Homo sapiens: one gene and its partners. The protein of the gene in region 1 interacts with the protein of each later gene in a pairwise test. Each region holds a gene or a part of one and is shown on either strand. Other genes may lie near its edges.

Region 1 (7,622 bases):
TCACTGCATTAGCTTATTTTTTCCTCATTTTTAGTTCTTTCAAGAATCATTAATTCCATGCTTGAAAATGTCTGAATGGCACTAATGAGGATAAGTTTTTTAATCTTTTGAATTCTTAATGTGAACTAACAGGAAAAAAATCTCAGAGCTAACAAATTAGAGTTGGTAAAGGGCCGATTTATAAGTGTCTCACAATTTATGGGTGTAAATCAAAATGTTAACTAGTACAGTCATAAGCTGTTTGTACAATCCTTAGGCTTTAACTTCTTTGGAATTGGCAAGCTAGGCATTTGACATGTATTTATATAACTGTACGGTTGTAGTTATTAATGATCTTGTCATTATTGTTGATAATGAAAAAAGATCTTCACTATAATTTCTTCGTATAATTCTTATAATGAAACAAGTAAATACTATTAACTAGAAAAAATCTAGTCTGCAGTTAGCCCACACACATCCAAACTTATCTCTGCCAGCAGCAAAAGAAAGCTTGAAAACCTTTGCCAAAATCAGAAGTTTCCCATTTAGATTACATAAGTTTCTGTTGAATTGAAATATATTTAGATAACATTTAAACCATTGATCTTTTGGTATTAACTCTCAGATGTTTCATAACTTTCTGTCTTTTTAGTATTCAGGGATATTATGTAAAGTTTTTCCTGCACTGAATCTCTGTGCTTGAGCCTACTGAAATGATCCCCCTAAGCCATGCTGCCTGCCTTTTGTGTTTAATGTTTTTTTACACTGACTTATCTCCTTCGTGTGTTCACCTCTCCCCCAGAGGAAGACAACAGAACAGTATAATTTACAGTTTGTACAGGTTAAAAAAAAAAAAAAAGGTTGTAAGGTGGGGGGGTGATATTTTGTTTTAAAATATTTGGGTAAGGAAAATTTTGTCTTTAATATTAATTCTGTAATGCTTGACCAGGCATGGTGGCTCAAACCTGTAATCCCAGCACTTTGGGAGACCGAGGCGGGCGGATCGCATGAGGCCAGGAGTTCGAGACCAGCCTGGCCAACATGGTGAAACCCCGTATCTACTAGAGATACAAAAAATTACCCAGGCGTGGTGGTGCATGCCTGTAGTTCCCGCTACTCCAGAGGCTGAGGCAGAATTGCTTGAACCCGGAAAGTGGAGGTTGCAGTTAGCTGAGACCACACCACTGCACTCCATCCAGCCTGGGCAACAGAGCAAGACTCAGTCTCAAAAAAAAAAAAAAAAAAAAAAAACATAAAAATAAAAATATAATCCTTGACTGTTACCCAGTATTTTTACATTATTTATATTAATATCATTTGATCTTCACAGAGAATTCTATGGAGTACTGTAATATTATCCTCAGAGGGAAACTGAGGCATCTATGGATAGACATGCAGTGTGGCTTAGTGATTAAAGCTCTGCATGCTGGAAGCTGACACCTGGGTTCCAATCCTGACGCAGCCCTCGCCTCTCTCCGACCTTGTGCACGTTGCCTAACCTATCTGTGTTTTGGTTTCCTTATCTGAAAAATGAGAATAGTCTCTACCTCATAGGGTGTTGTGAGAATCAAATGAGTCAAAACATGCTAAGTGCTTTAAATAGTGCCTGACACAGAGTAAATGCCCAGTAAATATTAATTCAATATTTTTAAAATGTAGAAGTGTGTTACGGCTAGAAGGGGATTTTGCTGAAAGTGGAATCTAAACCTTGCAATTTTACATCCTGTTCTGTTCTATCACTTGGTAGAGAGTAACAATTACATCCCGATTTTAGTTTACACATGTTAACTAGCAGTTTAGCATTCATCAATAAACTATAGATACTTAAAAGCTTTAGCTATCAGAAGATCAGTCAAATTATAGGTAAATACTGAATACATTTAAAGAAAATGTAGAGGGTTTTTATTATCTTTAGTAACTCAACTAGGTTAAAATGAAGAAATTTGAATTTAAACAATACAGTAGTTTCCCCTTATTTGTGGTTTCAGTTACCCACATGGTACAGTATGATAAAATATTTTGAGAGACCACTTTCATGTACGTTTTATCACAGCATATTGTTATATTGTTCTATTTTATCATCAGTTATTGTTGCTAATGTCTTACTACACCTAATTTATAAATTAAAGTTTATCACAGGTATGATAGTATATATAGGGCTTGGTACTATCTGAAGTTGCAGGCATCCGTGGGAGTCTTGGAACGTATCCCCCTTGGGTAAAGGGAGGCTCTTGCTAACTTATTTATGTCCTTACTTATTGTGCAGAGGACTTGAAACAGTAAACACTGATGTCTGTATGGTGATTATAGTTCACAATTATTTTCATTTCTATTATCGTAATTGATCCATACACAAACTCATGTGAGATAGGAGGGCAAGTATTAATATCCCTAATTCACAGATGTAAGAAAAGTTGCAAGAATTTTGGGTGACTTTCTTAAGGGAAGTAAGTGACCAAGTTAAAACTGAAAGCAGAACCCAAATATGTGCATATTGATTCAAAACACAAAGTTGATTTAAAAATTAGCACGCAAAACATAAATCTAAAATATTCTTACTATTCAGCAAATTTTTATTGAGTAGCTACTATATACCAGGCATTGTTTTAGGTGCTAGAAATATAAAAAAGGAGTAAAATAAAGTCCCTGTCCTTGTAGAGTTTGTATTTTTTGTTTCTTTTGTAATTGCAGCAAATTGAAAATCCCTAGAAAATGGGGTTTACTGCTTAATTGGCTTCTACTTAACCGAGACTATATCTCTAATTATTTTCTTTGATTCATAAGGTACTTTAAGGATTTTTTTTCTTAGTGCCTCAGGGTTACTAAAAAGATCAACTGTAATGGCTTTTGATATAAATGATAAAAAAACTGATTCAAGTGTCCCATTTCAAATGAATAATTTGTTTTTTAACTGTTTTTCATTCATCAAATGCAGAATTTACCAAAACTGAATTATCTTAGATTTCTAGTTATTTATATATTAACTTTTTGTTTATTCAGAATCATTTTTCTGTTTGTTGGAATATTTCTAAGAGCCTTGGAAAATCTCGAGTAAAATTTTAAATGAATTTGTATAGTGTTCTGCCTCTTTCCAAAGGTATTTCTCAAAATTGGAATTGTTTTATTATTGAAGTTGAATGACTTCAGGGAACTCTAAAATGCAAGATGGAAGCTTCTGTTTGGTTTTTTCTTTCCCTTTGGTAAGGTCTTTTGCTTCCCATCCCCTTGACCCACCTTTGTGCTGTCTGTTGTCCAGTCTGCTCTCCTGATCCCTAAAGATGTTTCTTATCTAGGCTACCATTTATGTGGGTAAAAGACAAGGTAGAAAATACTCTTCTGTATCTTGTATCAAGGGTTAATCTAATATCTTCATCACTTTGTTTTGAGATATTTTGGAATGTTATCAACAATTATTATAGATGGAGCATGTATGTCTTAGGTTTGGTGTTAACTGTTTAACATGCATTATCTTATTCAATCCTCACAGCAGTTATAAAATGTAGGTGTTTTAGAGGTAAGCATATTATAGGTCAGGAGAGTTCAAAGAGTTAAACTACCAAAAGGGGATCTGAACCCAATTTCTGAATCTAGTGTTAATGATCTTACTATCCCAAACTCCTACTCCTGAACATTCTTAATCAATGATCAACAGCTTATCACTTGGCAGCTTTGAGCTCAACCCTGGTAACCAAGTCATACTATACTGAACATAATGAAGCAATAGAAGCAAAAAAAAAAAATTGATATTCTGGTTAGCCTTTGAAAATTTCGATAGCTTGATATATAAATCTCAGAAAAAGACACTCAGAAAAATGAGAAAAGGAATATGAATAGAGAACTTTATACACAGCCCAAATACTGAATAAACACAAAGTTTTAAAGGTCAAACTTAATGAAGAAATGGAGGTTGTTAAAATTACGATGCTATTTTTAATTTATGTATTTCTAGCAAAGAGAAGAAACACAGCTTGTGGGAGTATAAAATAAAGTCTTTATAAAAGAAGGGTTGGCAGAATGTGTTGGAAATGTTGTATATCTTTATAACTTTCTAGGCCCAGCATGGTGGCTCATGCATATAATGCCAAAACTTTGGGAGGCCAAGGAGGGAGGACCACTTGAGCCCAAGAGTTTGAGACCAGCCTGGGCAACATAGTGGTACCGTATCTGTACAAAAAAATTTAAAAATTAGCCAGGTGTGGAGGCATGCACCTGGAGTCCCAGCTACTGAGGCTGGAGTATCTATTGAGCATAGGAGGTCGAGGCTGCGGTGAGCCATGTTAATGCCACTGCACTCCAGCCTGGGCTACAGAGTGAGATCTTAGATCTTTTCTCAAATAAATAAAGTACAAGCAATAAATAACTTTCTACATACTGTATAGCAAATAACTAAAAAGGCAAGCAGGTACATAAAGATAGACGTTTGTTATACTTTTTATACTGCCAAAAGTTGGAAGTAACTTAATTGCAGAGTAGGAAATTTTTAAATAGGTTGTATATATAGTAGGATATTTTGCAACTATTAAAAATCATGTGGACTAGTATTACATGGGAAAAAAAGCAGATTATAAACAGCATATATAGTATATTTTATAAAACTACATGTTAAAAATGTACTTTACACATAAAGAACAAAAATGTATGGGAGGCCGTTTGTTTTAGACTGACCTGCACTAGGCACCAGCAGACCAGACAGAATTAGAATGGAGGCCCTTGTGCTGAGTGCCACATAATCAAACTGAACTTTGAATTTGAACTGAAATGAGCCAGTTTTCTAAAAAAAAAAAAAAAAAAGAGAGAGATTTCAGTCAACCTGAGTTAGTGAAATAAGACAGCCCTCTCTGTTTTAACCTGTAAAGAAAGTTTTCAACTTTAAAACAACCAATCTACTTTTTGTCCCTTATTTCTGCTTTCTTTAAACCTTTTCTGCCTAGAAGGCTAACCTCCTCTGCTTAGCTCATTAGAAGACCCATTTTATAGAATGAGCTGTTGCCCATTCCTAGAATCACAAATAAAAGTCAATTCGAACCTTAAATTTGTGCTAATTTTTTCTTTTGTTAACACCAACACTGGCTATTTCTTTGTGATGGGTAAAAGATAGTTTTTACCTCTTATTTCTATATTTTTCAAATTGTATGAGTAAACATTTTTTAAGCTTTTGTGATTTGAAAAAAACTTTCTTGAAGGTGAACTAAAGAAACAACTTTAAGACCTGTTACTAACCATGGATCTCTAATGATTGGAACAAAGATAGAAAACCATGACTCTAGAATAGAAAACTCTCTCTTCAACCCATGAAATAAATGCTTTGGACAGCCGAAGACTAGATTCCTCAGATGGTGGAGCAGAGTCTTATTTAAATCTTTTTCCTTGCTGAATGACTTACAAATAATACTGGGTATAAAAGGAGAAAATGGGAACATGAATTGAGCTTAAGGAATCAAATTTTAATGAATTTTTTCTAATTCAGGAAACATTTATCAAAGCCAGGATCTGAGGATAAAAGGCAGGAAATAACGGAGGGAGTTCAAACATCTTTGAATTAAATTACTTTAATAAATAATGTATATATACGATGAAGGCACAGAATCATAATAGCAAACACGCCATGCTTTCAATGTACCAAGCCCTGTTCTAAGTACTATGCACCGATTAACTTACTCTCTAGAGTAAGCCTTGGGGTAGAGACTGTTACCAACATATTAATAGCATGGAGGTAAACAGCTAGAACTCTGGAGCTGGCTTCCTGAGTTAGAATCTCGAATCCACCAATTACTAGCTGTATGATCATGGGCAAGCTGCATATACTCTTCACTGTTTTCTATAAAAATGTGGACAATCCTAGATCCATGTAGAATTGTGCTGAAGATTGTAAATCATTTAGAACAGCACATAGTGGTGTTAATAATGTTTTAAAAGCCCCGGAATATTAAAGCTAAGGAAATTAAAGTACAGAGATTACTTGTAATTTACCCCAAGTCACAGTGAGTGGGTGGAAGAGCCAGATCATGCTCTTAGTGGTTATCATAAATTGTGGAGGAAGACCCAAAGCAAAGCATCTTGGGAGGAGACTGGTGAGCTGTCTTGCTGGATGATAAAAACTTATCAAGATAAAGAATGGTATGGTAAGGGAGGAGCTCAGCACAGGAATGAGGCATGAAATAGAATGGTGTACATGGGGCAGTGTGGGTAGTTAGGTATGGTTGGGACTTTGAGTGAGTGGGAAGGTTCATAATGATAATTAAGGCTGGAGAGATGGGCAGGAGCCAGGCATGGAGGAACTTGTACTAAATAATACCTGTTTTACCTTGTGAATGGTAAGGATATAGGTAGAGTAGAACTGAAGGCAGGGAGATCAGTGAGCAAGCTATTGCAATAGTATTAGAGATTTGGGGAGCCTAACCCAGGATTACTAGAGATAGGATTGGAAAAGGGGAGATTTGAGGAATATCATAGGAGGTGACATTTACAAAGTTGATTCTGATTTGGGAAGTTAGTGGTGTCAATAATAGAGAATACAATGAAAAATGCTTTTTTGGTGAAGAATGCTGAGTTTAGAAAAATTATGGCAGGCAGTTGGAAATTTGATGAATCTGAAGTTAGGGTGAAAAATCAGGACTAAAGATAAAGATCAGGGAGTTAAATCATGACAACTAGCACATCTGTCCCTGCTTCTGGTAGATATGGGTACAAGACCAGAGATATTAAGTGATTTAGAATAAGGTCACAGAGTTAAGTACCACAGTCATATTCAATACAATTAACCCAAACCATGTTGTCTTTGGATTTTGTCAATGTTGTCAAAATTTTGACAACTTTTGAAATTTTGTCGATTTCAAAAATGGAAAATACATAATATGCCAGGCACTTGCTGGGCAATACAGATACCTGCAGTAATGGAGTGAGCACCAGCATCTTCCCTGATGGCGTGTGCAGTGAGGTGACTCGTCTGTAGTGTCCTCAAGGTCACGTAGAGAGCATACAGTAAATACTTGTTGACTCTTTCAAACTTAAGTTAATGATACAGTCAGGACTGATAGCCATTTTGTTGTCTTTCTTGAAAGTTTACGTGGAAGGCAGACCTTGTGTATGCTTTTCAAAGGGGCTCATTTAGCGCACTTGGCGCTTAAGAATTTGAGATCAGTGTGATGGTCCTAATCTTTTTTTAAAAGTATTGGAAGTTTGAACTCACCTGATGGGGTTGGTTTTTTTTTTTTTTTTTTTTTTTTCCAAAAAAATAATCATTCAAAATAATCGGTTAACATTTTCAATAAGAGCATTACATACAAGGAGTTAGGGAACAAAGAGTTTTAAAATCTGGCTCTTTTTATCTCTACTTAGGGCGTGCATCTTCTCTTCTTACCCCAACATATACTGACTTTTTAGGACCTCCTTTAGGGAGATCTCAATATCCCGAATTTTTCTGTGTGGAGAGGGGAAGGAATATGTCTTTTTTTGCTTTGGTCAGAGTGGATACATTTTATAGTTTGTTTTTTCAAAGACGGGTCTTCTGAGTCACTTCTTTCACTGCTGCCGTAAAGAAACTGTATAAAGGTGATTGAGCAGTGAAGGCATGGATAAAAGGGGAAATATTCAGCAGTTCTGAACGTGCATGTCATCAAATATAAAGGAGTGAGAACTTGATG
Region 2 (7,622 bases), on another chromosome or scaffold:
GCAGAGGTTGCGGTGAGCCGAGATCGCGCCATTGCACTCCAGCCTGAATAATAAGAATGAAACTCCGTCTCAAAAGAAGGAAGGAAAGAAAGAAAGAAACTGGCAAACTATTTTCTTTTTTTTTTTTTTTTCAAATGGAGTCTCACTCTGTCACCCAAGCTGGAGTGCAGTGGCACTATCTCAGCTAACAGCAACCTCCGCATACCAGGTTCAAGTGATTGTCCTGCCTCAGCCTCCCGAGTAGCTGGGATTACAGGCAGGTGCCACCACACCCGGCTGATTTTTGTATTTTTTGTAGAGATGGGGTTTCACCATGTTGGCCAGGCTGGTCTCAAACTCCTGAGCTCAGGCAGTCTGCCTGCCTCGACCCCCCAAAGTGCTGGGATTACAGGGCATGAGCCACTGCGCCCATCCTGCCAAACTATTTTCTAGAGCGGCTGTACCATTTTACATTCCCACCAGCAATTTATGAATAATCCAGTATGTCTACATCCTCTCCAGCATTTGGTATCATCACTTTTTAAAAAACTTTTAGCCCGGCACAGTGGCTCACACTTGTAATCCCAGTACTTTGGGAGGCCAAGGCAGGTGGAATATCTGAGGTCAGGAGTTTGAGACCAGTCTGGCTAACATGGAGAAACCTCATCTCTATTAAAAATACAAAAATTAACTGTGTGTGATGGCATGCACCTGTAGTCCCAGCTACTCAGGAGGCTGAGGCAGGAGAATTGCTTGAACCCAGGAGGTGGGGGTTGCAGTGAGCTGAGATTGTGCCACTGCACTCCAGCCTAGGTTACAGAGTGAGACTTCTCGATAAAAAAAGGCCGGGTGTGGTAGCTCACGCCTGTAATCCCAGCACTTTGGGAGGCCAAGGCAGGTGGATCACGTGAGGTCGGGAGTTTGAGACCAGACTGACCAACACGGAGAAACCCTGTCTCTACTAAAAATACAGAATTAGCCGGGTGTAGTGGGGCATGCCTGTAATCCCAGCTATTTGGGAGGCTGAGGCAGGAGATCACTTGAACCTGGGAAGCGGAGGTTGCAGTTAGCCATTGCACTCCAGAGATCACGCCATTGCACTCCAGTCTGGGCAACGAGAGCAAAATTCCATCTCAAAAAAAAAAAAAAAACAACTTTTAGCCATTCTGACAGATGTGTAGTGTGTCATGTGTGTTGTGTGTGTGTTGACTCTTCTCTCACTTATCTATGAGAAGAGAATTAATTTAGGTACAGATAATGGCTATTGGCTTTTATTAGAGGTCTCAAAAATATATAAAGACTTCAGGCCTTCTTTTGACAGATTATTTCTGCAGTTTTTTTTGTTTGTTTGTTTGTTTTAAGACAGGGTCTCATTCTGTCACCCAGGCTGGAGTGCAGTCGCGAGTTCTTGGCTCACTACGGCCTCAACTTCCCAGGCTCAGGTGATCCTCCCACTTCAGCCTCCCAAGTAGCTGGAATTACAGGCATGCTCCACCATGCCTGGCTAATTTTTTGTATTTTTTTTGCGGAGACAGTGTTTGCCATGTTGCCCAAGCTGGTCTTGAACTCCTGGGCTCAAGTGATCCTCCCACCTTAGCCTCCCAACATGCTAGAATTATAGGTGTGAGCCACCTTGCCCTGCCATTTCTGGGCGGATTGATAAGCTAATTGGCCATAGGTGACCTAGAGTCAGACACCTTCATATAAGAGCTTCAGACTTGGGACTTACTTGCATGGCTTCCAAGCCTGCAAATCTATACCCTTCCTTTTTGAGCCATTCTCAGTGCTCTATTAATCCTTTTTGTTTCTCCCTGAAGGGCCATGCCTTACCTGTTGATTCGAAAATTCAAAGAGATATTAAAAATAATATATCAAGGAATATATTTTACTTTCTCTTTCTTTGCTTTTTTGTTGAGATGGGGTCTTGCTGTGTTGTCTAGGCTAGTCTTGAACTCCTGGATTCAAGAAGTCCTCCAGTCAGCTGCCTGAGTAGCTAGGACCACAGGCACACACCACTGTACCCAACCTAGAATATATTTTAGTTTATTTTCTAATTAAAAGCAAGCAAAACCTCTTTGTTTTATTATGCATTCATCACCTCCAATTGGTGTCCTTTGACTTGTAGTTCTAACTGTACCTGCTGGTAAGGTTGCAGAGGAGACTGTAATTAAAGAGGAAGAAGAAGAGAAGTTGCCACTAACAAAGAAACCAAGGATAGGAGAGAAGACAAACAGTGTGGAGGAAAGCAAGGTAATGTTTTTAGGAGTGATGAAAAGAATTTAAAGCCTTAATTATTAAGGCCTGAACCCTTCTTCATCTTTTCTTTTTTCTTTTTGAGACGGAGTCTTGCTGTGTTGCCCAGGCTGGAGTACAGTGGCATGATCTCAGCTCACTGCAACCTCCGCCTCCCGGGCTCAAGTGATTCTCATGCCTCAGCCTCCTGAGTAGCTGGGATTACAGGCACCTGCCACCATGCCTGGCTAATTTTTGTATTTTTAGTAGAGACAGGGTTTTGCCATGTTGGCCAAGTTGGTCTCGAACTCTTGACCTCAGATAATCTGCCTACCTCTGCCTCCCAAAGTGCTTGGATTATAGGTGTGAGGCACCGCTCCTGGCCTGTCTTTTTGTCTACTGTCTGGATAATTTATGATCAGGAATTTACCTGGTGGTGACATGGCTTACTTTTACAGGAAGGCAATGAAAGAGAGCTACTACAGCAACAACTCCAGGAGGCCAATCGAAGAGCCCAGGAATACCGACACCAGCTCCTAAAGAAAGAGCAGGAAGCAGAACAGTACCGTCTTAAGCTGGAGGCCATAGCCCGACAGCAGCCCAATGGAGTTGATTTCACCATGGTTGAAGAGGTGGCTGAGGTAGATGCTGTAGTAGTCACAGAGGGGGAGTTGGAAGAGAGAGAGACAAAAGTGACTGGGTCAGCAGGGACCACAGAGCCTCACACTAGAGTTTCCATGGCAACTGTTTCATCTTAATATGCAAGGGCCACAATTTGCACTGTGTTCATATTAATCCTCTTTTAAAAAAGGAAATATACAGAAGACAAACATTGTATAAAAACTAAGAGTGTCTTTAAGAAGAAAACTATAGCAGGGTACAATGCTTGGGCTCAGGAAGTTTCTCTGTGCAACTAGAAAATTCAAAGCCATATTTAGGGAACATTTTTTCTGAGGGGCCAAAAGAATAAAGGACCAAATTTCTTAGCTCATATCATTGCTTTAAACATAGAAGTAAAAGAATACTGCATGTTGTGGGTTGATTTTTTTTTTTTAAATAACTGACTTTCTCACAAAAGATTTTAAGATAACATTTCTAATATATATGCACCAATATATATGCCTTTAATAATTATACCATCAAGTGACCTGAAAATGCCCCTTAGATTTATGATGCGTATCTGTTGGAAAAACCAATTGGAAGGGAAGTTAGACAAGCTTTGGGGAAGAGAAAAGGAATATAGTCCATTTCCAAAGGAGCAGGAACTCCCAACCTTAAGTTAATTTCACTGAAGAGAATTTTCCCTTTTTTTTTTTTTTTTTGAGACACGGTCTGACTCTGTCACCCAGGCTAGAGTACAGTGGTGCAATCTTGGCTCACTGCAACCTCCGCCTCCAGGGCGCAGCCTCCTGAGTAGCTGGGAGGACAGGCATATGCCACCACATCACTGAGAAGAAATTTTTGATTGTCTGACAGATACTTATCCATTATGTGTCTATAGTTCAGATGCTTGTGTAAGAAACTGAAATAAGCTGCGTGTGGTGGCTCACACCTGTAATCCCAACACTTTGGGACGTTGAAATGGGAGAATTGCTTGAGTCCAGGAGTTTGAGATGCGCCTGGGCAACATAGAAACCTGTGTCTACAAAAAATTTAAAAATTAGCCAAGTATGGTGACAGGCACCTATGGTTCCAGCTACTCAGGAGGCTGAGGTGGGAGGATCGCTTGTGCCTTGGAGGTCAAAACTGCAGTGAGCCATGGTTGCACCACTGCTCTCCAGGCTTGAGTGACAGAGCAAGACTGTATCTCAAAGGAAAAAGGAAACTAGGCCAGGCGTGGTGGCTCACGCCTGTAATCCCAACACTTTGGGAGGCCGAGGCGGGCGGATCACGAGGTCAGATCAAGAACATCCTGGCTAACACGGTGAAACTCCATCTCTACTAAAAATACAAAAAATTGGCCGGGCGCAGCGGCTCACGCCTGTAATCCCAGCACTTTCGGAGGCAGAGGCAGGCGGATCACAAGGTCAAGAGATTAAGATCATCCTGGCCAACATGGTGACACCCCGTCTCTACTAAAAATACAAAAATTACCCAGGCATAGTGGCACACGCCTGTAGTCCCAGTTACTTGGGAGGCTGAGGCAGGAGAATTGCTTGAACCTGGGAGGTGGAGGTTGCAGTGAGCCAAGATCGTGCCACTGCACTCCAGCCTGGCGACACAGTGAGACTCTGTCTCAAAAAAACAAAACAAACAAACAAAAATACAAAAAATTAGCCGGGCGTGGTGGCACCTGCCTGTAATCCCAGCTACTTGGGAGGCTGAGGCAGGAGAATCGCTTGAACCCGGGAGGCGGAGGTTGCAGTGAGCTGAGATCGCACCATTACACTCCAGCCTGGGCAACAGAGCCAGACTCTGTCTCAAAAAAAAAAAAAAAGGAAATTGAAATAGAGTTTTTAAAAACTGAACTGGAAAGCCGAGGCGAGCGGATCACCTGAGGCCAGGAGTTCCAGACCAGCCTGACCAACATGGAGAAACCCTGTCTCTACTAAAAATACAAAATTAGGGCCAGACCCGGCAGCTCATGCCTGTAATCCCAGCACTTTGGGAGGCTGAGGTGGGTGGATCATGAGGTCAGGAGTTCAAGACCAGCCTGGCCGAGATGGTGAAACCCTACTAAAAATACAAAAATTCACCTGGCGAGGTGGCAGGCACCTGGAATCCCAGCTACTCGGGAGGCTGAGGCGGTAGAATCACTTGAACCCAGGTGACAGAGGTTGCAGTGATCCAAGATCATGCCACTGCACTCCAGCCTGGGCGATAGAGTGAGACTCTGTCTCAAACAAACAAAACAAAACAAAATTAGCTGGGTGTGGTGGCACATGCCTGTAATCCCAGCTACTCAGGAGGCTGAGGCAGGAGAATCGCTTGAACCCGGGAGGCGGCAGTTGCAATGAGCCGAGATGGCACCATTGCACTCCAACCTGGGCAACAAGAGTGAAACTCAATTAAAAAAAAAATAGAAAAGAAAGAAAACTTGTTTATGTGGGAGGAGTATATATAAAACCAAAATCCAGGCTGTGTTTCCACAGTGCTGGGAAGTGGCCAGAAAAAGGCTTATAGGGGCTATGAAACTCTGGTCTTGACATATAAACTTTGCTCTGACTGGATTTCATAAAATTACAGTGAGGAGGGTAGTCTCTTGTCAGAAAAACTTGTTTCCAAACATTTATGTAATGTCAAGCTCAGTCTCTCTTTTTTTTTTTTTTTTTTTTGAGACGGAGTCTTGCTCTTGTTGCCCAGGCTGGAGTGCAATGGTGTGATCTCAACTCACCGCAACTTCCACCTCCCGGTTTCAAGCTATTCTCCTGCCTCAGCCTCCCGAGTAGCTGGGATTACAGGCACGCGCCACCACGCCCGGCTAATTTTGTATATTCAGTAGAGACAGGGTTTCTCTATGTTGGTCAGGCTGGTCTGGAACTCCTGGCCTCAGGTGATCCACCCGCCTTGGCCTCCCAAAATGCTGAGATTACAGGCGTGAGCCACCCCGCGCACAGCCTAGACTCTAATTTTATAAAACTTTGTTGAATTTTCTAAGTGTCATTTAGGACATATTGTGCTTTTCTGTGGAGCTTATATCTTATCCTCTTATGTGCAACAAAAAGGGGGTCGGAGGTAAATGCTGATGATGTTGTTTAGTTTTATTTCCTTTTGATCTGGCATGAGTAAATTGCTCTGTTTCCTTAAGCTTGGGTCTGTTACAGAGCTTTGTGCCTTATAGGGTGCTCAGTGTGTGTTGACAAAGGGAATAAGAACTGTCAGTGCCATAAAGAACCAAAGATTCTGGCTACTTTGTCTTCTTCCTTTCTCTCCCACTATGCCTACACTTCCTCTGCCCAGACACTTTTGGAAAGTGTTTAACTGCTGGGTTTTCTTTTTCTTTTTCTTTTTTTTTTTGAGACGGAGTTTCACTCTTGTTGCCCAGGCTGGAGTGCAATGGCGTGATCTTGGCTCACCGCAACCTCTACCTCCTGGGTTCAAGTGATTCTCCTGCCTCAGCCTCCCGAGTAGCTGGGACTACAGGCATGCGCCACAATGCCTGGCTAATTTTGTATTTTTAGTAGAGATGGGGTTTCTCCATGTTAGTCGGGCTGGTCTTGAACTCCTGACCTCAGGTGATCCACCTGTCTCGACCTCCCAAAGTGCTGGGATTATAGGCGTGAGCCACTGCGCCTGACCACCTACCTGCTGGGTTTTCTTTGTATGTCAGCATGGAGTTTTTCCCAAAGAAAGGGAATATGGATGGAGAGAGAGAGGTTATGAACAGGTTATGTTACAGAGGTTATTGCCTTTGAAACTGGGCCCTCATCATTCTAGACTTGCTTGCTTTGTTATAAATTAGAAGAAACCAGAGGGAGATGTGCCAAGTAAACATTCGAATGACTGTTTAGAATATGGTTTTCTTAATTAGCAGTCATGGGGAAAACATGCATTTTTAATTTGGAAAAAACCTGACAGTTAACATGGTTCTGTTTACCTTGATTAGTGAAGTAATTTGCTGCAGTGTTACAGAGGAGCAGAATCACTTGGGTCTCAAAATAGACTGAAAATTTAACTCCCCAAACCAAATTTAACAAACAGAATTGGTTATTAGAGATTTATAGGCAAAAATATCAGTTTGGAAATTAACCTTGGCTACTGGCCACCTTAGCTAGGTTTTCTCCACAGATCTGTTTTCTCCACAGATCTGAGTACTTAACACTTCCCAGATGATTGGAGAATATTCTGGGCTGTTGGGGATGACAGGAAAATGTGAGGGGGAGTAGCCTAGGTAAGGGTGATGATGAAATTGTTCTATCTGCTGTCAAATAATCTTTTCCTGTTTGCAATGTTTTTATTTTTTCTGAGTCCCTTTGGGAACCAGGTGCTAACAAGAAGCTGTTATGTGTGGGATTTCGGAGCCTTACTTTAACGATAGAGGAACCAAGTATCATTTTAGATATCTTTTATTTATGTTCTCGGTGCATATGTTGACTTTAATCCCTCTTCCCCCACACCTCGCCCATTAAGGGGAAGGAGGTTAACTCTGCAGATGATATTCAGGCCCAACCAGCTCACTCTCTGGGGTGGCTACTGACTAAAGGCAGAGAATGTCCATCCAACATGCCCTTCTGACTATACAGTCACCACTTTTTTGGGGGAATTCTTTAGCAGATCTTATTGTTCTTTCTGCAGAAGCTATCATTCCTACCTCCCCAACCCCCAAAATCTCTAATACAGGCCAAGTCATTTTTTATGATGGGTCTCTGAGATAGGGCAGTTTGTTAGAGGAGAGGCTAGGGTAGAGAGGGAGAGAATGGAGGTATCTGAAAATAAGTAAGAAAAAGGCATTGATTTTTATTTACTCGGAA
Region 3 (8,315 bases), on another chromosome or scaffold:
CGCCTGCCACCCTCCACCGTCGCACCCTGCAAACCCACCCCTCTCCTGTGCTAGAACTTGCTAACACCAGTACCATGCCCTACCAATATCCATTGCTGACCCCGGAGCAGAAGGAGCTGTCTGACATGACTCATCGCATCGTAGCTCTGGGCAAGGGCATCCCGGCTGCAGATGAGTCCACTGGGAGCACTGCCAAGTGGCTGCAGTCCATTGGCACCGAGAATACCGAGGAGAACCGGTGCTTCTACCGCCAGCTGTGGCTGACAGCTGACAACCGCGTGAACCCCTGCATCAAGGGTGTCATCCTCTTCCATGAGACGCTGTACCAAAAGGCGGATGATGGGCGTCCCTTCCCCCAAGTTATCAAATCCAAGGGCAATGTTGTGAGCATCAAGGTAGACAAGGGGGTGGTACCCCTGGAAAGGGCAAATGGTGAGACCACCACCCAAGGGCTGGATGGGCTGTCTGAGCGCTGTGCCCCATACAAGAAGGATGGAGCCCACTTTGCCAAGTGGCATCATGTGCTGAAGATTGGGAAACACACCCCCTCAGCCCTCACCATCATTGAAAATGCCAACATCAGCTGGGCGCGGTGGCTCACGCCTGTAATCCCAGCACTCTGGGAGGCTGAGGTAGGTGGATCATCTGAGGTCAGGAGTTCGAGACCAGCCTGGCCAACATGGTGAAATCCCATCTCTACTAAAAACACAAAAATGAGCTAGGCGTGGTGGCACACACCTGTAGTCCCAGCTACTTGGGAGGCTGAGGCAGGAGAATCGCTTGAACCTGGGAGACAGAGGTCGCATGAGCTGAGATTGCACCACTGCACTCCAGCCTGGGTGACAGAGTGAGACGCCGTCTTGAAAGAAAAAGAAAGAAAAGAAAGAAAAAGAAAGAAAGAAAGAAAGAAAGAAAGAAAGAAAGAAAGAAAGAAAGAAAGAAAGAAAGAAAGAAAGAAAGAAAAGAAAGAGAAAATGCTAGTGTGTCAATGTCCTGGCCCACTATGCCAGCATCTGCCAGCAGAATGGCATTGTGCTCATCGTGGAGCCTGAGGATCCTCCCCAGTGGGGACCATGACTTGTAGTACTGCCAGTATGTAACCGAGAAGGTGTGGCTGCTCTACAAGGCTCTGAGTGACCATGACATCTACCTGGAAGGCACCTTGCTGAAGTCCAATATGGTCACCCCAGGCCATGCCTGCATCCAGAAGTTTTCTCATGAGGAGATTGCCATGGCAACTGTCACAAGCACTACACTCTGGGGAATAAGCGGCCTAGAAGGATCACAACTGGGCCAGAACAGGGCCCACCCAGACTCATCACTGAGGCAGGTGGGGTCATTCTCACTTCACAGACACAAAAACTAAGTGCTGCACTGCACAGTGTCCCCCACTGTCCCTGGGATCACCTTCCTGTCTGGAGGCCAGAGCAAGGAAGTGTCCATCAACCTCAATGCCATTAACAAGTGCCCCCTCCTGAAGCCCTGGGGCCTGACCTTCTCATATAGCTGAGCCCTGCAGGCCTCTGCCCTGAAGGCCTGGGGCAGGAAGAAGGAGAACCTGAAGGCTGTGCAGAAGGAGTATGTCAAGTGAGCCCTGGCAGATAGCCACGCCTGTCAAGGAAAGTATACTCCAAGCGGTCAGGCTGGGGCTGCTGCCAGTGAGTCCCTCTTCATCTTTAACCATGCCTAGTAAGCGGAGGTGTTCCCAGGCTGCCCCCCAACACCCCAGGCCCCATCCCCTCCCACGCTCTCTTGAAGAGGGGGACTCCTCTTCGGGGCTCCAGGCTGGCTTGCCCGCGCGCTTGCCTCCCTCGTGACAGCGGTGTGTGTTGTCTGTGAATGCTAACTCCATCACCCTTTCTAGCACATTGCTAATAAACAGCTATTTAAGGGAGAAAAAATAAAAATAAAAATAAAAATAGTTCCTGGGGCCCAGAATAAAAAGGGGGAATTCTAGGGGCTGGGGTTGACATTTTCCTTTTGCCTTGACCATTGGGTGGGTACTATGTGCAGCAGCCCCGGACGGTGATAGTGATGGTAATGATGACCATGATGCAGACTGGGTGGGAGGGAAAAAAGTCCCCAGCGTCATCCCTGGGATGGGGCCTGACCTTGCCTCAACTCCAGCTGCCCAGGGCCAGAGCGAGTGATAAGATGAGTTTATACTGTAGCTCTGAGAAGGAAGGGAGGGAGGGAGAAGGAGGGAAGGAGGGAAAAGGGAGGGAGGGGTAAGGGAGAGAGAAAAAGGGAGAGAAAGGGAAAAGAAGATGGGGAAGGAGGGAAGGACAAGGGAGGAGTGAGAGGCGAAGAAGGAGAAGGAAAAGAAGAAAAAGAAAGAAGAAGAGGAGGAGGGGGCGGAGGGGAGAAGAAGAGGCCCCGAAGGATCACAACTGGAGCAGAATAGTGCCCACCCAGACTCATCACTGAGGCAGATGGGGTCATTCTCATTTCACAGACACAAAAACTAAGATTTAAGGCATGAGGCAATTTGCTCAAGATCTCAGAGTTAGGACTAGAACTCATGGCTTATGCCTTGCTCTTCAAGGTCTCAAACCTTGAACCACTCAAGAAACATATTCCAAGATACCTCACCCTTACCTCATCAGAAAGGGGAGCTGGTTAAAATGCAGATTTCTGGGTCAAAATCAAAGGTGTGTGGCACAGGAATCTGCATTTTGACCGGTACCCTGGGGGTGGTTCTTTGGGCCCTGACACTGGGAAACCCCGTGGCTCATTTAGGGCCTTTCTGGTCTGACCTCTTGGCGTCAGGTCCTGACCATACTCCCGTTGCCCAGCTATTTGGGCTGACTCACGCTGACCCCCCAACCGCCACCCCCACAGGGCTGAGCCTTTTCCATCCAAGGCTTCACCCACAGTCTCCCAGTCGCATGTAGATCCACCCTTCCAACCAGCACCCGCTTCTCTTCTGGAAGCCTTCCTCGTGGTTGGGATCCTCCTCTTTCAGCGCCTGTTGGAGTAATAGCCTCCTCCTCTTCCTCCATCTGGAGTTGCTTACAACACTCTATTTCACTTTCCATGTGAGTCGGCCTTGTTTCCCAATCTTTCTCTATATTAAACAGGAAACTCCCAGAGGGCTAGGGACTGGCTGGTTTAAACAATAAGCCTCTGAAATACAGGACTTCACCTGACCCTCCTGCCAGCCACAAGTGGCAGGGCGGGAGAGCTTTACAAATCAGGAAACCAAGCCTTGAAGAGGTTGTGGCCTGCCCAAGTCTATGGCCAAGTAAGATTCAGAGCTGGGTTTGAAACCCATGCCCAACTCCACTATCCAGTTCTTTCTGCTTTGGCTTTGGCTCTGATCACCCCCAAAAAAACCCTATGAGGGCCAGGCGCAGTGGCTCAAGCCTATAATCCCAGAACTTTGGGAAGCTGAGGGTGATCACTTGAGGTCAGGAGTTCAAGACCAGCCTGGCCATCATGGTGAAACCCCATCTCTACTAAAAATACAAAAATTAGCTGGGCGTGGTGGTGTAATCCCAGCTGCTCAGGAGGCTGAGGCAGAAGAATCGCTTGAACCTGGGAGGCAGAGGTTGCAGTGAGCCGAGATTGTGCCACTGCACTCCGGCCTGGGCAACAGAGGGAGACTCTGTCTCAAACAAACAAACAAAATAACAACAACAACAAAAACAACCTGTGAGGCAGGCATTTCAGGGATTATGATCCTATTGCCCAGATAAGGAAAGCAAGGCCCAAAGATGAGCAAAGCACTCAATATCATCCTTATTCTGTTCCCACTTCCAGCTGCACTTGGGTCCAAGTCCAAGTGCTGACCTTTTCTCTCTCATCTTCTCTGGGTGATGGGCACTGCCCAGGATCTCTTGGCTGAATGGCACAGAACTGGGTCTCGAGCTCTCAGACCAAAGCCCTCATCCTGGACTGGTCCCACTGCCACTCTGAACCCAGGTGCCTCCTCTGAAGGTGGAGACTCACCTCACCTGCCTTGCAGCCAGCTGGGTGCTCAGAGACAGAAATGCAAAGTACCTGGACACACCCTGGTCACCATCATTCTGGACTTTGTCCCTCTTGTTAATGCTCAGCTGGGAAAGGAATACCCTCAAAGGCCCTTTCCTCAAGAATGGAGGAGAGTACCTCTGAGCCTGGCACAGGCCCAGCCCAACACAGCCCAAGCCAAGCTGGGAAGGGTGTGGGGCAAGGAAGCCAGACTGACATTCCTGAGACGGGTTTGCCAAGCCCTACACTTTATGTGTTGTACCCGGGAAACTCAATGGAGGTATGGCCCAACGCTGACCTTTGGCATGGAGGCCTAAGCCACCCTGCTGGTGCCCAGGGTGGCCAGCAAGGGGCTTCAGACAACCCTGGATGGAAAATAAAAATAGTGGCTAATATTTGTTACACGCTAACTATTGTCAGGCCCTGTGCCTTCCCCTCCTCCCCAAGTGCTCAGAGCTGTGGAGTGGATGGGTTCCACCCTAGCCCTGTTCCTCTGTCCCCTCTGGATCATCTTAGACCAGAAAGTGCCACAGCTGAGTGTCCCGCTTCTTCCGCATCCTGCCAGGACCACTCCATTTGTGGGCGATATAGCCAGCTCCACCTCCTCCGGGAAGCCCTTGTTCACAGTTTCCAAAGCAAGCCGCAGGCGGGATGGATCCTGCTTAACACCCCGGCCCAGAACCCCTTGGATCTCCTTCTTCCTCCATGTCCAAGACACCCAGCTTAACAACCCTGTAGCCCCCAACTTGGCCCTAGCGGCACCTCGCCTCGACCTTGCCATTTTATACTCAATTGGGGCGTAGGGTTCTGAAGCCCAGGGTAGTTGGTGGGGAGGCAGCACGAGGGTGCAGGATGAGGTCGGGAAAAGAGACCTCGTCCGCCCACCGCCTAGCGCTTCCTCCTCCCTGCAGGCGAGCCGGGGAATCCCCGGCAGCACCGATATCCGCAGAGCCCAAGAAGTGGGCCTCTCTGCCCCGCCCCCCCGGCTCGCCGAGGGCTACGCGGCGCGCCTGCGCAGAAGAAGGCAGCGCCCAAGGCGCATGCGCAGCGGTCACTCCCGCTGTATATTAAGGCGCCGGCGATCGCGGCCTGAGGCTGCTCCCGGACAAGGGCAACGAGCGTTTCGTTTGGACTTCTCGACTTGAGTGCCCGCCTCCTTCGCCGCCGCCTCTGCAGTCCTCAGCGCAGGTGAGGGCCCGCGCGGTAGGTGCGGCGCCGGCCGAGGAAGCCCCGGGGTGTCCTGCCAGCCGTGGCACCGCTGCCCCGGGTGCTGGGACCCCATCCCCCACTGTCCCAGTCACCCGCCGCCTTGAGGTCAGCGTTTATCCTCCAGATCTTTTGCCTAGACGGCCGCCTCAGTTTCCCCCTTTCGGCCCCTTCCGGCTATTCCCGGTTGAACCCGCCGCTTTAGAATTCCCTTCTCATACCCCTCCCGTCATTCTCGAGACCTCGACCGCGGGTCACCTCTGACCCCCACTGCCGGAGGACTGCCTTCTTTCTCCAGACTCAACTCCCTCGACTTTATAAGCCCCTGCGCGTCCCCAGTGAGGCCCAAGGCGCTGGCCCTCATACCCCTACCCTCATTTGTGCCCCTCCTTTCTCAGTTATGCCCAGTTCTTCCCGCTGTGGGGACACGACCACGGAGGAATCCTTGCTTCAGGGACTCGGGACCCTGCTGGACCCCTTCCTCGGGTTTAGGGGATGTGGGGACCAGGAGAAAGTCAGGATCCCTAAGAGTCTTCCCTGCCTGGATGGATGAGTGGCTTCTTCTCCACCTAGATGTAAGCCAAGATGTCTTATCTGCACTGTGCATCTCCCTAAGAAACCTCTGGCCTCCCAAACCTGTTCTTGACCTTTCCCTCATCCTTCCGCCCCCTTGATTATGTACTGTCAGTATTCATTTGGTGAAGTTGCTTTGCAGGTGCCTTTGTGTAGCGCTGGAGAATGAAGAAGTTGGTGACCCGGGTAAAGTGTGGTCACCATTCCTTAGCTCACATCAGTGCTGTCCTTAGGCATTTTTGAGGGAGAAGTGTTAGTATTCCAGGGTACCCTTTATATAAACTGCGGTTGACACCTGAATCCAGTGAGCTTGCAGTGATATTTGCCTGATTATTAACAACTGTTGATGTCACTCTTCATCAGTCTTTCCACAGGAGCCAGCATACTTCCTGAACATGGAGAGTGTTGTTCGCCGCTGCCCATTCTTATCCCGAGTCCCCCAGGCCTTTCTGCAGAAAGCAGGCAAATCTCTGTTGTTCTATGCCCAAAACTGCCCCAAGATGATGGAAGTTGGGGCCAAGCCAGCCCCTCGGGCATTGTCCACTGCAGCAGTACACTACCAACAGATCAAAGAAACCCCTCCGGCCAGTGAGAGTAAGTGTCATTGACAATGAAGGAGCAGGTATGGGTGTTTGTGCTCATTGGTAGACTAGAAGCAGTCCCCACAGTGGTGGTGAGGGTCACACTCACTCACAGAGGGCTGCTATGTGCAGGCTGGGCTCTGAGCACAGATTATCTCATATGATTGTCCCCCCAAGGGTAGGCACTTTTAGCTTTTCCATCTTTAAAGGTGAAACAGTGGCCAGTGTTGCACATTACAGGTTTTTGGATTGCACGTTAGTGTCTATAGGGGTTTTAGTGTTTCCTCAGTGCCTCGTTCACATAAATATTAAATTGGAATGTTCTAATTTCCCTCATTAAACATTTAGCCTTCTAATTTCCCTCATTAAACATTTGGCCTTCGGCTTTTTATTTATTTAATTTTTCTTTTTTGAGACTGAGTCTTGCTCTGTCGCCCAGGTTGGAGTGCAGTGATGCAGTCTCGGCTTACTGCAACCTCCACCTCCCAGGTTCAAGTGATTCTCCTGCCTCAGCCTTCCAAGTATCTGGAATTACAGGCATGCACCACCACGCCCAGATAATTTTTGTACTTTTAGTAGGGTTTCACCTTGTTGGTCCGGCTGGTCTCAAACTCCTGACCTCAAATGATCCACCTGCCTCAGCCTCCCAGAGTGCTGGGATTGCAGGCGTGAGCCACCGTGCCCGGCCCCTTTGGCTTTTTAAAGTAGTGATTTTTTTTTTCTTAAAAGTTTTTGTTCTGTTGTGGTAAAATGCCCAAGAAAAATTACCATTTTAAGCACTTAAAAATGTGCAGTTCAGTGGTACATTCATATTGTTGTGTCACCACCACCATCCATCTCCAGAACTTTTTTCATCTTCCCAAACTGAAATTCTATACCCATCAAACAGTAACTCTCCATTCCTCTCTCCCCAACCCCTGACAACCACCATTCTGCTTTCTGTCTCTATGAATTTGACTATTCTAGGTACCTCATATAAGTGAAATTGTACAGTATTTATTAGTGATTTTTAAAAACAAATTTATCTTGGCTGTGTGCAGTGGCTCACTCCTGTAATCCCAGCGCTTTGGGAGGCCGAGGTGGTTTGATCACCTGAGGCCAGGAGTTCGAGACCAGCCTGGCCACATGGTGAAACCCCACTGTTACAAAAAATACAAAATTAGCTGGATGTGGTGGTGTACGCCTGTAATCCCAGCTATTTGGGAGGCTGAGGCATGAGAATTGCTTGAACCCGGGAGGTAGAGGTTGCAGTGAGCTGAGATCATGCCATGTATCTTTATTTGTATATACATTTGTTGTTGTTGTTTTTAACAAAGAGACTAGAGTTGAATTTAGTTTGCTCTGCTTCTGATAGGAGAGAACAAAGCTTTTCAGGTTCCACTTAATCCCAGAGAATATTTTACAGGTTTTTCTTAGGCGTGTTCTCTGGGTGTGGGCTTGTAAGAAAATAAGTTTTTTTTTTCTTTAAGCAGAAAGGATTTAATCCTTTGTAGGGTTTATTTTCAAGAGTTAGTTACGTCTTTTTTACCAAAATGCTTGCAATGGCTATGTTTTAAATGATAGGATTTTTTTCTTTTTCTAGACTTTAATGAATATGTATTACTTTTATAATAAATGAAATTAACTTCAAAATAATTTTTTTGGCCTTCCGTTATAGAAGATTTTAATGAAAACTGTATTGAGACACTTTACCCAAGTTATAGGAAAGGCTAGCCAGTGACTCACAGGAGTGTTCCAGAATGATGAAGAAAGACTTTTCTAGAAAGAAGGTGAATGAATTTGCTCAAGGGGAGAGGGAAGTCACTGTAGCTAGAAGGATAATTACCAGCCAACGGTGTTTAGTCAGCAGACTTTGATGAATTTAGATGAGAAAGTAGATGAGGTATGTGAATGTGATATACCCCTATTTTTTCTTACTTTATTAGCAATCTAAAGACCTAAGTCTTAGTCTAATTTCTGTTGTTTAGATGAAAACCAATAGCT
Region 4 (7,585 bases), on another chromosome or scaffold:
AAGAAGAAACCCTAATCCATGAGGCACTGGCATCATGTGTGAAGCAAGAGGGCATGGGGGCAGGCAGAAATGGAGTTCTGGAGACAGGGAAGACTCTGGTAGTAGAAAGAGTACTAGAAAGAGTAGAAAGAGTATCAGACTAGGAATGAGGAGTCCTACATTCTAGCCCTGACTCATTGTGTGACCCTCAGTAAATCATACCCATGAGCCTCTTTTCTGTAAAATGGGGACAAATGCTATTAGACTGAACCGCATGAAACCGAATGATCAAATGTTGGCAATTTCATGTTGTTCTACCTAACACCACATAAGCCTGGCAGCTGACAGTTCAAATAGAGCTGCTCCATGAGAGCTCTGATCTCCAAGGCCAGCCGGCAGCCTCTGCTCAGTCCGTAGCCTGGCCACAGCAAGCAAGCCCTGCCCACCTGCCCCAACTCCCACGCAGGCAGTCTGAGGACAGCTGTCACCATGGTCACCAGCAAACCCACTCAATATCTTGCATGCACTCAGACAAAAGGGTTTTAGAGGCTTGCACCTCACCTGGCCCCATCAGGCCAGGGAAGGGAGGACAAGGCCAGCTATCCCACTGGCAGGAATGAAGAAAGTGAGGCTCAGAGAGAGGAACATGGCCTTGGCAAAGCAGGATTAGAACCTGCACTCTGCCTCCCTCAGGAGGGCTGGATTAGCCTGCTAAGCCCCGGGTGAGGAGATGGCCTGTCCATGCTGGCTCTGACTCAAGAGACAGCTGCCCCGCACCAACCGCAGCAGCAAACAGCAGCCATGTCCTCCCCGAGGAGAGCCTGTGTTAAAAGCTGAAGATACAGGTTTTCTGCTTCAAAGTCATGGTGACCTTGGGTGAGCCCCTGCCTGGCTTCTTAGCCTTCTCATCTGGAAAATGGGGACTATTCCAAGCCTACCATTCACAGGGTTGAGACAAGGTATAAAAAAGATGAGGTCCTCATTAACACGGTGAAACCCCATCTCTACTAAAAATACAAAAAATTAGCCGGGCGTGGTGGCGGGCACCTGTAGTCCCAGCTACTCAGGAGGCTGAGGCAGGAGAATGGCGTGAACCCAGGAGGCGGAGCTTGCAGTGAGCCGAGATCATGCCACTGCACTCCAGCCTGGGGGACAGAGCAAGACTCCGTCTCAAAAAAAAAAAAAAAAAAAAGATGAGGGCCGGGCTGTCATGAGTCTATTTTTGGGCCACCTGGCACTGATGGGAGACACAGATACTGTCAGGGAAAGGAGACAAGGAGACACGCACTGCTGATCCTGCTGATTCTCCAAGGCATTTCCTCCATTAGCCCTCCCTGCCACTTCGGTGTTCCCAGCCCCACCCAGGATCAGACCCCTTGACTTCTTGCCTGGACTAGTGCAGTAGCCTCCTAACCCATCTCCCAATTCCCTCCCTCAATCCATCCTCCAACAGAGGCATGTGTCCTAGAGGAGAACAGAGTCCAGGCTTCGAGTCTAGCCCAGCCACCATGGAGGTAGGTGTTCTTTTACCTCTGTGATCCTCGGAATGCCCAAATAGAAGGTGACTACGTGCCCACCCCTTAGCCTTTCCCAGCCAGCGCTGCTGCTCCTCCCAAGCCCTTGCCTCATACCCCTCGCCCTACTGGCATGACAGCCTGAGGGGCGTCCCAGCAACACCAGCACACTCCAAGGCACGCAGTGAGCACTCAGGAAAATCCCAATCCCTCTGCCAAAAGGCCCAGATCCTTTCACCTGTTCCTCTCGGATGACCCTCAACATTTCTGCCGAGTGTTGACTGATCTCTGCTCCTGCACAGTTGAGCCTGACTTATCTCCATCACCCCAAAGCACCCTGTGTGTGTGTGTGTATGTGTGTGTACACAACTCCTATGCTCAGCCCCACTGCCACGCCCTGGGCCCCCGCTCAAGCTTCATCATCCCTCCTTGGTCTCTCCAGATGCAGCATCGTCAGATGGAGCTTATTACACGGTAAGCACCATTCCGTCCATGCCCCTGCTCAGAACTCTCAACACTCTCCAGCCCCTTGGACCCAGAATAAGGTCCAAACTCCTGAGCCGGACATGCAAGCCCTTTCTGTGACACTCAGCTGATGTGGGGCAGGGGTGGAGATGAACTCAAGCAACATTGTTCAGTGGAGACTCTGCAGACATTGGAGCAGGGGGCTTTTTCCTGACTGCTACTTTGCACAATGTCCCCTCTACTGAAAAAGGGCTTTTCCCTCTTCTCTCCTGGAAAATTCTGACTCACCCTTCAATGCCCAGCTCACATGCCCTCTCCTCTGGGAAGCCTTTCCTTTTCCCTCCACAATTCAAGTGTCTAAAGTTCTGGCCTCCAAGGCCCTCTTAGCTATTCTCATCCCTCTGCAGCATAACTGGAATCCATGTCTCTGTCTCCCACCAGGCTGGGACCTCCCTTGGCAGAGGTCCAATCCCCGTCTCTGAGCCCAGTGCCCAGTACAGAACCAAGGACTGAGGTGTCCGTGAAGGTGCGTCAAGCAACTCATGAGAGACATGTGACAGCAAGATGAGAGAAAACCAAAGATGTAACCACAAAAGTACCTTCCAGAAACTGGCCTAACCTTTGGTCCAGTCACCACCCCCTCCTTTGCCCAGGCCTGGTCTTGCATATCAAAAACCCTGAAAATCTTAAACATCAGTCAAGAAAGCCCCTACAGAGGTCACTGGACTGGACTGAGGCTTTAGCCATTCTAGAAATTGTTCAAACAACCAAAGCAAAAGAAAAAGCACAAAACAAAAACAAAACAAAACAAAACAAAAATCTGTTCCTGGTTAGCCTTCAGGTCAAAAGCTCACAGAATCTCCTAGGACCTGAGAAGAAGGCTTCATGGTGTTACTCAACCTCTCCCTGCTCCAGGTCAGAGCAGCCCCTCCCAGCCTCTGCTCAGCACCTAAGAGCTGAGGAGCACATTTCCTCCCCTCTCTGACCCTCGAAGCCAGCCTCCCTCCTTTGACTCCCCTGGGAGCCAGAGCTTCCTTGGGGGTACCAGGCTGCCCCTCCCGACACCAGGTGGTGCCCTCCATCTCTGGCCCCTCAGGTGTCTGAATGGCAGCATCTCTCTAGGTATTTTTTAACTGAACTTCTACCCAAGGCAACCCTGGGAAGAAGTGCTTCACCCTACTCCGGGAGGCCCATGTCTGGGCCACCAAACTGTCTCCTGGAAAGAAAAAGAAAAAAGGGTTTCACTGGTAAAAAGCAGCTGCTCTTCCTCAAAGGATAAGGAGGAGAGAGAAGGGAAGAAAGCAGGAGCAGCTATTCCTCCTCAGGAACCCACCACACACACCTATCCCTGCGGGGCCACCCCTCACAAACCTGTGAGGGCCGCACTCCACCCCAAGCTTTCTGGAAGGAAGGGCACCAAGCTGACACATCAGGGTCTCCGGTTTGCAAGGGCCAGGGCCGTAAGAGGGGGTTGGGGAGGGTATCCCAGGGCCCAGCACACTGAGAATAGGAAAAGCCCATTCCAAGCAATGGTGGCCTCGGGCCCCCCAGTTTGTGCCACCTCCCTCCCTCCAGTGCACCCGCGCCCAGCCCACGCTTGAGCTGGAGGGCCCCACGAAAAGCCAGCAAGCGAATGTACTAGGTACTGGGTGCGAATGCCCTCTTACCTGAAAGGGGAGGGAGCAGGATCACTTCGACATACAATTGATGAAGGGAGGGGATTAATGCCCAGAGAGGAATAGCTACTCGCCCAAGGTCACACAGTGAGGCCCAGGAGGCCCAGGATGCACCCAGATCTCCCGACTCCCAGCCCTGGGCTCGCAAGTCCAGGGTTCTCGAAAGGCCAGGGTGCAGACACCGCCCCCCAAAGACAGTCACACGCCCCCAACCCCCTTACCTCCCGGACCCCGGTGGGCCAGAGCCGGCTGCTGGGCGGGGCGCTCAGGCCGGGCAGGACGAGGCTGGGCCCGGCTAGGTCAGGGCTGGTCCTCTGCTCCCCCCAGGGTGGGGACGCCCTCAGCCAGGTCCCAGACGGAAGAGATGCTGCTTCCACTGCAAAATCCAGTCTTCCCACCCCGCCTGGCACAAGCCTCTATGTATCCAGGAAGCCCGACTCTGCGGCGCGGCCCCGGGGCTGCGGGATGAAGCATGGGGAGGGGCGAGGTGCGTGAAATGGGGCGGAGCCGGAGCGGGGGCCACCCCGCGAGCTGCCACTCTGACCGCGTCCCCTTTAAGGCCAGCCGGCCGGACACCGGCGGGGACGAGGCGGGGCGCAGAGCAACTCGCTGCAATGCCTCCTGGGAGATGGAGTTCGCTCTCGACGCGCCGAGCTGCGAGGAGCCCAGAGAGAACTACCAGTCCCGGAAGGCAGCGCACAGACCCCGGACCGCCACGCCCCTGGGCTGGGCTCCTACCCTCCGCCCCCCTCGCAAAGCTGCGCTGGCCGCTCGCGGAGGGAGAGGCTGCAGAGCGAGGGCAGGAGGTGGGTGCGGCACGGCCGGGGTCGCGGGGCTCGGGGACTACCGGCGAGGGTACGTGGGCCCACTGAGCACCTGTCTTACCATGAGACTAATCTATCCCAGCCTCGCCATTCCCATCTGTGAAATGGGGATGGCATCGCCTGTGGTGCGGGGGAGGGGGCGCGTTTCGGAGCGAGGTGAGCCGAAGTGGGCAGAGCTCTTAGAGGGGCGGGGCTGTTGGGAGAGCAAGGGCGGATGGTGATAGTCGGAAAAGCCCGGATAATGAGGGTCGGGACTGTGGGAGGAGTCCTTGGTGGGTGGGGCAAGGAGAGGCGGGATCTCTAGGTGGGGGTGGGGCACTTGTCAGGTCGGAGTGGGGGCTGTAGGGCTGGGGAGTGGGTGCGGAACAAGCCGATGAGGCCAGCCTGGGTGAGATTGGGGAAGGAAGGGCGGAGACACAGATGACAGGGAACTTGCCCCGCTCTGGAGAGCCCTGGGCCGGCCGCGCTGTGGCGGCGTGGGCAAAAGCCTGTGATGCATAGAACACCTCCCTTTACTGACTGGAAATAAAGAGTCCATCCCCGAGTTCAGTGCGGCACACCAGTGATCTCATTGACCTCCCACGCCCTGAAAAGTAGAGGCGTCACTATAGCGGTTGACAGGTGAGGAATGTGAGGCTCAGAAAAGCGAAGGGACTTGCCTAAAACCACTCAGGACTCCTTACTTCAAAGACCTTGCTTTTCTCCCTGCACTCGGGGAGGCAGAGGTTTAGCTTGGCGTGGGAGGCAGGAAAGAAAAGTTTTGATGCCCCGACCTTCGCAAATTGTCTGGCAGGACCAGTCCCCCCAACCCTTCCGAATGACAGCCTGTAAGGCAGCCCTCCTATAGTACTGTGAGGATGAAATGAGATGGATTTGAAAGCACGGTGTTTATAAATTACTGTTTGGAGGAGACATAGGAAGAGAGCGGTTTGAAATGGGGTGCTGGTGCCGGAGGAAAAGCACAAGGTGAAGCGTGAGAGTGAGCCGAGAAGGTGAAGGAAAGTTCTGGAAGGGGCTGGGGGATGGTAGTGGTTGTTGGAGGTCTACGCCAGATGAAAGAATACCTTGCCGTGCCAGATTCCGTGGTCTCCTTCTTCCAGCCCACCTTTCTCTCCTCCTGCCTTTTGCGCAGCTCATTCTGGGGTCCCTGTGTCTAGGAAGCACCTTTTCTCTCCTCCCTATGGGTTGTGATGGTAATAGAGCAGCCTTCGGATTTCTTAGAGATATGGACTGGGCAAGACAGAATTATAGACGCAGCTCTTTGATGTGGGGTGGTCAGGAAGAGGAGGTGAAGAAAGGGTAGTCGTCCTAGGGGCTTCAAGGCAAAGAGTCCTTTCTCCGGTGGGGTAAGGTGGGGAAGTCTCCCACTTACTGGAAAACACAGTACTCACTCTGAGCATTGTCTTTTTTGAAATTTACCCAGCCACGTGCTGTCCATTCCCTTACGCAGTGGAAACTCTCCTTGCATTTACTCCCAAGTAATCACCTCGGCCTTGTCACATCCCTTTAGATTCCAGATTGAAAATTGAACAGAGCATTTCAAAATTAAAAAGTTTTGAAAATCCAGGTGGGGAAAATGGATCTGACTAAACAGGAGAGAAATTTCTTCCTCTTCCCCTATTCTACGTGCTTCTGTGGATATAGAAAGGGGCACCCCCAGCCCCAGCAAGGGAGCCAGGCATCCATCTACTTAAGTAAAGTTGGCTGTGGTAAGGGGTTAGACTAAAATTCTCCGCAGATGCAGAGGAGAAGGAATGAATTCCAGCTGAGAGACCTGGCCGATGCATGGGATTTGTCTTCAAGGTCCAGGCAGAGGGGATGGCAGATGCCAAATTGCAGAAGTCGAAGAGGGCCCAGTATGGTTGGTCTGTAAAGTAGGTATATAATAGTATCTACTTAATCTGTGAGATTGAAAGAGATTAACATGTATAGAGTGCCTAGCACGGTAGTAACTGCTCAATAAACGTTAGCCATTATTATTGCCGTTGTAGTGTTTGTTGTTGTTATGATCATCATCATCTGCCCAGGAACGTGCCCAGGGCTGCACAGCTAGTAAGTGGCAGGGGATGATTCAAATGCAAACCCAGGTAATGCCGAATACCATGCATGGTCTGCCCCTACCCCACACAGCCTCTCCAGTTCTTTTCTTTTTTTTTTTTTTTTTTTTTTTTTTTTTTTTTTTTGAGACAGGGTCTTACTCTGTTGCCCAAGCTGGAGTGCAGTGGCGTGATCTCGGCTTGCTGCAGCCTGACCTCCCAGGCTCAAGCGATCCTCCTACCTCAGCCTGTGCAGCTGGGACTGCAAGCACGTGTTACCATGCCCAGCTAATTTTTTTTTTTCTCTATAGAAACGAGGTCTCATTATGTTGTCCAGGTGGTCTCAAACTCCTGAACTCAAGCGATCCTCCCACCTGGGCCTTCCAAGTGCTGGGATTACAGGCATGAGCCACTGAGCCTGGCCTGTCTCCAGTTCTTTCTGCCCATCCTTGACATTTCTGAGGCCCAGGAGTGGCCTCTCTTTGTCAACATTCACAGTGAGTCATGACAGGAGTTTCTTTCCTGCCGAGTTACAGAGATTCTGGGTTCATGATGAGGCAGGAAAAACAAGGCCTGAACAGCCATCTTCTTCCAGGCAGAATCACAGCACAGAAGATAGGCAGACCTGGCCGGGCGCGGTGGCTCACGCCTGTAATCCCAGCACTTTGGGAGGCTGAGGTGGGTGGATCATTTGAGGTCAGGAGCTTGAGACCAGCCTGGCCAACGTGGTGAAACCCCGTCTCTACTAAAAATACAAAAATTAGCCGGGCATGGTGGCACGCACCTGAAATCCCAGCTACTCAGGAGGCTGAGGCAGGAGAATCACTTGAACCTGGGAGGCAGAGGTCGCAGTGAGCCAGGATCACGCCACTGCACTCCAAACTGGGTGACAGAGCGAGACTCTATCTCAAAAAAAAAAAATAGGCCTAGTGGTGTGGTTTCTGTGGGTGGTGGCTCTATCCAGACTGCCCACCCAGGCTTAGATTCTAACTCCTCCACCACTTAGCCCTGGTTGGCATCCTCACCCTTCAAAATTCAGAAACACTTGGGAAGGAAAATTATGAGCTTTTCACACTTCTAAGTAGTAGTAG

The links.
Region 2: the proteins of LONRF1 (region 1) and GABPB2 interact in binary tests that used the Homo sapiens proteins (3 or more experiments, as listed by UniProt).
Region 3: the proteins of LONRF1 (region 1) and ALAS1 interact in binary tests that used the Homo sapiens proteins (3 or more experiments, as listed by UniProt).
Region 4: the proteins of LONRF1 (region 1) and KCTD21 interact in binary tests that used the Homo sapiens proteins (3 or more experiments, as listed by UniProt).

The regions. Positions count from the first base shown.
Region 1 is NC_000008.11:12,744,905-12,752,526, reverse strand, and holds part of LONRF1 (LON peptidase N-terminal domain and RING finger protein 1), read left to right. Parts: intron 1-7,622.
Region 2 is NC_000001.11:151,115,288-151,122,909, forward strand, and holds part of GABPB2 (GA-binding protein subunit beta-2), read left to right. Parts: intron 1-2,104; coding exon 2,105-2,229; intron 2,230-2,669; coding exon 2,670-2,969; 3' UTR 2,970-7,622. UniProt on the Homo sapiens protein: May function as transcription factor capable of interacting with purine rich repeats (GA repeats).
Region 3 is NC_000003.12:52,193,096-52,201,410, forward strand, and holds the start of ALAS1 (5-aminolevulinate synthase, non-specific, mitochondrial isoform 1 precursor), read left to right. Parts: upstream 1-5,064; 5' UTR 5,065-5,160; intron 5,161-5,576; 5' UTR 5,577-5,723; coding exon of another isoform or gene 5,724-5,753; intron 5,754-6,114; 5' UTR 6,115-6,125; coding exon of another isoform or gene 6,126-6,146; coding exon 6,147-6,345; intron 6,346-8,315.
Region 4 is NC_000011.10:78,185,428-78,193,012, reverse strand, and holds the start of KCTD21 (BTB/POZ domain-containing protein KCTD21), read left to right. Parts: upstream 1-4,386; 5' UTR 4,387-4,440; exon of another isoform or gene 4,441-4,489; intron 4,490-7,585. UniProt on the Homo sapiens protein: Probable substrate-specific adapter of a BCR (BTB-CUL3-RBX1) E3 ubiquitin-protein ligase complex mediating the ubiquitination and subsequent proteasomal degradation of target proteins. Promotes the ubiquitination of HDAC1.